Linked DNA regions of Homo sapiens: region 1 is linked to region 2. The links come from fine-mapping of genetic effects on gene expression. A gene starts in region 2. The other region holds a variant in brackets. All regions are shown on one strand. Distances are between the middles of the regions. Region 1 overlaps MPPED2 (metallophosphoesterase domain containing 2). Region 2 holds the start of MPPED2 (metallophosphoesterase domain containing 2).

Region 1 (2,909 bases), 120 kb before region 2:
GCCCTGGGCTGGGAGCCAAGGTCGAGTGAACCCCCATTACAAGTGCGATCTAATTCTTTCCCACTCCAAGAGACAAGACTCAGATTTAGATTTACTTCTACTCTAAAAACAAACAAACAAATATATTGATGTGAAATTTCTTGCATCTGCATATCATAGAATAACATTCACACCTGCTACACATGTTTAAATGTTTAAAAACTCGAGTTGCTGGTGCAGAGTTATTGCTCACGCCTTGGGCTTTCATCAAGAGATGCAGCTGTGGAACTGTTGGGGGTAGGAGGGGGCTGGTTTTATTCAGAATCCTTAGCTCCAAGATGTGCTTACTGATGCTATGGCAGAACCAAGGCAAAACAACATGGAGGCTCCTTGGAGATCACTTGGAATGGACCAACAACCACATCCTACAGCTCTCCCCAGAGGCCCCCCGATGCAAGTAAAAGATGCCATGTATTACAACAGTGTATCCCAAGCTTCAGTCCTCATGTACTAGAGTCATGATTCATTAGCTACATCTGTGTACCACCTGTACTAATATTTACTAAGTATTTCTCTACATATGGTATCACTTTTATTACTTAAATAAATTTATCCTCATCCTAAACAAGAATATCCATGAAATCACAAATATGGCATACTATACACACACACACACACACACACACACACTCTCTCTCTCTCTCTCTCTCTCTTTCAATATGCATGCAATAAATACATAATTACTAAAGAACAAATGTGCACCTCTGCACCACCTAAGATTGTGTCACACTTCACCATGTGGCATAGCCTACCACTGTATGCATTGCTGTAAGAACTATAGTTGTTCTGGATATTCTAATCTCATTTTCTCTTCCCATCAATCTCAGTTTACAAACTTTGATAACTTTTTGATGATGACTAGTCTGAATATAAAATGGCATTAAGGGAGAGTGAAAGAGAGGCCAAGGGGAAAAAGAGGGTAAAAGGAGGAGAAGAGGTAAAATAATTAGGAGAGAAGCAGAAAGAAGAAAGGAGAGAGAAAAGAAAGAAAAGATGCCCAGGCAAGATATACAAATAAAAATATTAATCATATAGGAACCTCCATATTGTGTCTGTGTGTGTGTGTAACACAATCACACCAGGAACTCTGTTCACCAAAACCATGGCTACCTCATGAGGGGTCAGTATTATCTTCAATGATTACACAACACTGGTCCCAATCATAAACCTGAAAATAGGAGGCATTTATGCTCTGATCCCCCAGATTCTTCCAGGGACCCTTGTAATTCACTCCACCACTGGATCTTTGCCTTTCACACCATGCAGACTTAACAGCAA[G/C]CTGCATAGCCAGCCCTCCCTACACCTTCCCCACTTACCTTCCTTATCAGTTCAGGAAGAAATTTCTGCAAAACTCTTCCCCTGGTCACTGATATCTCTGGGAACCAAATCCATTAAGATATTTTTGATCCTTACTCATGCTATTTTGAATGTCTGGTGCACAGGAAGGAACCGATAAAAATAGAATTACAATGCCCTTACCGCCAAAGTAGCAAAGGAGCTGATTAAGATTGATGTCTGAATAAATATACAATAGCAGGCCCTACATTTAATAGTCTTTGATGGAAGTGGAAAAGAAGTGTAGTTTTCACTGACTTTATGTGTGTGCATTTCTGTTTTCTTACCATCTACTTTTTTCTTAAAATATGGACTATCTTTTTTTAATATCAAAAGTAGTATTGAATAGTAATGACAACAATAATACAAAATAATGGCTAATATTCATTAAGCACTTACTAGATGACAGACATGGTCCTAGAAAGTTTACATGTATTAACTCACCTAGTTCCCATAGCAGCAAACAACCTAATAAGGATGCATGCCTACTGTTACTCCTTTTTATAGATGAAAAATCTCAGAATCGGAGATGTAGCAGCAGCATAGCAGAAAGAGCCAAGTTCAGTCCTACTTCTCCAATTAAGTATATTCTCCTATTAAGTACATTACTATAATGTTAATATCTCTTGAACCTAGCCTCCTTTTCTATAGTTAAAGGTACTCAAGGAGCAGGTAGAGAACTAAATAGAGAGGTGTGTAAAGCCCTTCAGAGAGTGCCTCCCCCAGGAGTAAGCCCTCAAATGCAATGTGTTATTATCATTATCATTATCATCTTCACCATCATTATCATTATCATGATCACTCCTTCCATATCCCCCATTGATTAGCAGGCAAATGGTTTCCCTCTCTACACTTATTAATCTGATAATATAAAACAAGTAAATTTCCCTAAAGGAGCATGGTCTGATTCTTAAGAATTCTTCAAGGAAAGCACTTATGGCTCATTATCACTGTGTCATGGAAGGTACCCAGAGAACTCCATGGAGAGTAGCTTCAGCCCAGCTAGAATCATGTCATTCGACCAGCAATATCTAAATTATTTGCTGCAACTTCAACTTGTGAGTGGTTGTACAAGTGCTTGGTGACTGAATTTTTTATCTGTCCATGTTAATCACTTTATCCACTTTGATTTCAGCACTTTCTTTTATGAAAATTTATTATTCATTTTCATTTTTAAGGTACACATAGGATGGTCCATCATGAGGTGGACAGCTGGAGAGTCAGCTCATGATTCTAATGTAAGAGGTTTTGGAAAACCTCCCTTCACTTGTCCCCTACCCTACTGGCCCAGTATGGTCAGTCAAGCAAACAAGCCCCCATAATAAGCAGCAAGCACCACTTAAAAGTTGATTGAAGAATATATAAATTATAGTTAGATGGGAGGAATTTTTTTTAAATGTGTCCAGAATACTCAAACATATAGAGACAAAAAGGAGATGAGTAATCGTCTGGAGACAGGGGGTAGAGGGCAGAGAAATGGCCATTAGTAGAATTAGAGAAATTATCTACTCATAGTTATGAAGTTTCTTTTTTAT
Region 2 (2,909 bases):
TTTTCACTTAAACTTTTGTTTGTCCCACCCCCCCGACCTGTTTGTGTTTGTTTGCAGCATCTCAAATCAATTATACATTTTTCATGACCCGCATTTGCACTTAATTTGGGGTGTGTGTGTGAGAGGGGGGTGGTGATGTACTATTATAAATCAACTTCACTGGGGCATCCTTAATTTATTTTCTTGCTGACGGATTCCAACCGGCTCCTGAGCCTCTAGAAAAATGCCCCCTTCACCTCCTAGGCCGCAAAACCCCGGAATTCAAAGGCTTTACAAAGATAACCTTGTTATACGTAAATAGCAAAGAAACTCCTGCCTCTGTAGAGAAGAAATCCGGCGGCAACGGTTACTTTTCCTCGGTACTCGTCCCCCGTCGCCTAGCCTCGACCCCAGCTTGGGTCGCCGGGTCGCTCCGCAGGCTGCGAGCGCGGAGACCCAGGCAGCGGCGGAGAGTGAGGTTGGGGCGCGGGGACGGGGTGAGAAAGAGCCCCGAGCGAGAGCGGCGCGCGCGGGCGGCCCCGGGGGCGGCCGCGGGGCGCAGCCGGAGCACAAAGCTGCGCGGTGCCTTCCCCTCGTCACTGCACCTGGCCTCGGGCCGCCGCGGGAGCCCGGGGATCGGGCCAACACAATGCACCCAGGCCTAGGCCGGGGCGGCTCGAACACATCACCCCGGGACTTTCTAGTAAACAGCTCGCTGAGCCCTCGTCCCCACCCCCATCCCCGCCGCCCGGCTTCCCCAGCTTCTCGCCGATACCCCCTCCTCTCCTCCTAAGAAATCCTGGCGGAGGAGGGAGCGAAGAGGTGGGGACCCCCAGAGGTCGGGGGACTGATGGCTGGAGGGGGTGGAGAAGAGAAGAGGCGCAGGATGGGGAGTCGGAGGGAAGACACCTCCTAAAAAAGAATTTGCTTTCGCTCAGGGGTTGAAAATCAGCCCTCCCCGAGCGCCGAATTGCCCGGGAGGCGCCCGCTCGTGCGGATGTCAGGGGCACCGGGGCAGCCCGGGTCCGCAGCCTCCGAGCCCCTCGCACGCGCCTCTGACAAGGCACCTCTCACCCGGGCTCCGCTTTGTGTGTGCATTTTTTTCCCTTCCTCTAGTGCTCGGCACCGGGCTCCCGGCCGCCTCCTCCCCCTCCCCCGCCCTCCGCCTCCCTTCCCGGGGCGGATTACCTTTCCCGGGCTGCGCTCCGGATCCCGGGGATGCCTTCAGCGCCCGGCGAGCAGGCGATCCATAGCCGAGCGGCCCGAGCCGGCTGGAGGAGCGCTGGGGGCGCGCGGGGGCGGCGAGGGGCGCGAGCGGGCCAGAACCTTCGACCCCGGAGGTCCCGCCGCAGGCTGGGGCTGGGGGCCAGGGGGCGCGGCGCTAGAGGGAGGCGGGGGGAGAAAGGACCCGAGCAGCCTCGATCTGGGGAGAGAGCGAGCGAGGGGGCGAGGAGAGGGAGCGAGGGCGCGGCGAGCCGGAGGGAGAGCGAGCGGTGCAGTGACAGGGACTGCCACTGGGGTCAAAGGAGCACAGCTCCAGGAAGCAGGGCGGCCGAGGCGCCGCTCCGTGCGCGCTCCCCGGCGGGACCCCGCGCCCCTGCACGCCCCTCCCGCAGTCCCTGCCCACTCGGACCCCCACCGGTGCCCCGAAGCCCCAGGGTTTCGAGAGGAGGAGGGAGCCGAGGGCGAGGCCCGGTAGCCTGCTGGTGCTCCCGGGTCAAGCAGGCGGCAGGAAGCTGAGCTGCAAGTTCATCATCATGAGTGCGATCTGCGTAAAAAATGATAGGGGAAGGAAGGCGGGCTACGGTGCCCCAGGAAAAGAAGGGAGCTTTCTCCCAAATGGTGTTCTTCTGCAAAGAGAACACCCAGCTCCCCGCCACCCACCGACCTGCCAGGCTCTGTCAGGAGTCCTGGCACCGTTCCAGGACGCAGGGCTCACCGCAGGGGTAAGGGGAGCGGCTGGGACACTTCGCTCAGACCTAGGAAGGCGACCCTAGGTTCCCTCCCATCTGCTGATCTGAGGCTTTCCTGGGGGAGAGCTGTGCTCCTTTTTCCCCAAGCCTTTCAACACGACAGACACACACACACACACACACGCTCACTCACTCACTCACACACTCACCTCTTTCTCTCTGCAATGTTGCTGAGAAAGAAAAGGCCAACCCAGCTGATCATTTTTTTTACCTCCATGAATTAAGGCAGATTCAGGACAGGAAGGTGAGGAGAGGCAAAGACTCTAATTGTTTCCATTTTCGTCTTTTGGATAAAATTTTCCCCAAAAGATAAGCATGTCAAAAGCATTTTAAAAATCAAACTTAGTCCAGTTTTGTCTGCTACTTTGGAAAATGGAAGAAAAGGTTTTCAGAATTTTGTACAAACAACACAAGGAAAGGAAATGCCGCTGAAATGCTGGAAGACAGAAAACAAGGGAGAGAAGGCTTTTAGAAAACTTGGTTGGCAGGGTTGTCTGTGAAAGATGAGGTGGCCCTGTGATGTTATGCCATTGTCATTGCTGAAAGATTGGGACAGCAACCAGATCTAATTCCTTTCTAGGAGTCAGACTGAAAGATCTGTGCATTCTCTGAAGGGAAATCCAATGTATATATATGTGTGTGAGAGAGAAGTGTGCTAAGTATACTATGTGACAACTGACTAGACATCCTGGCTGAAATTATACCCCCTAAAAATAAAAAGGAGCCATTGCAACCTGGTCTGTGGCCTCTGTGCTGAGACTAATTGGTTTCCAGGGTCTGGGGAGGAAGGGAGAGAGGCTTGTAGGAGCCCCTATAAAAAAAGATCAAACGGAATTCACTTGAAAATATTTCCCTTTTACAATGGGCTTTCCTGGCACTTGAATTTTAAGTAACCCATCTCTTATGCCTAGGCTGAAATGAAAAGGGAAATGGTCTTACTAATGTATTTATTTTATT

Evidence for each region. PIP is the estimated chance that this variant, and not a neighbour inherited with it, causes the effect.
Region 1: its variant is the best candidate, but not a certain one, in a credible set for the expression of MPPED2 in lung (TOPMed, PIP 0.78).

What each region holds. Positions count from the first base shown.
Region 1 is chr11:30,467,589-30,470,497 of GRCh38, forward strand. All of the region lies in intron 4 of MPPED2 (metallophosphoesterase domain containing 2), which reads right to left. Among named protein-coding and RNA genes, the nearest start is that of MPPED2-AS1, 120 kb to the right of the region's middle. The variant G/C (reference allele first, on the strand shown) is at 1,318.
Region 2 is chr11:30,584,875-30,587,783 of GRCh38, forward strand. MPPED2 (metallophosphoesterase domain containing 2) reads right to left here and starts at 1,479. Exons shown (of 7, transcript NM_001584.3): 1 at 1,168-1,479. The region is part of intron 1 of MPPED2-AS1 (MPPED2 antisense RNA 1); the gene reads left to right. RefSeq lists a silencer at 1,384-1,433.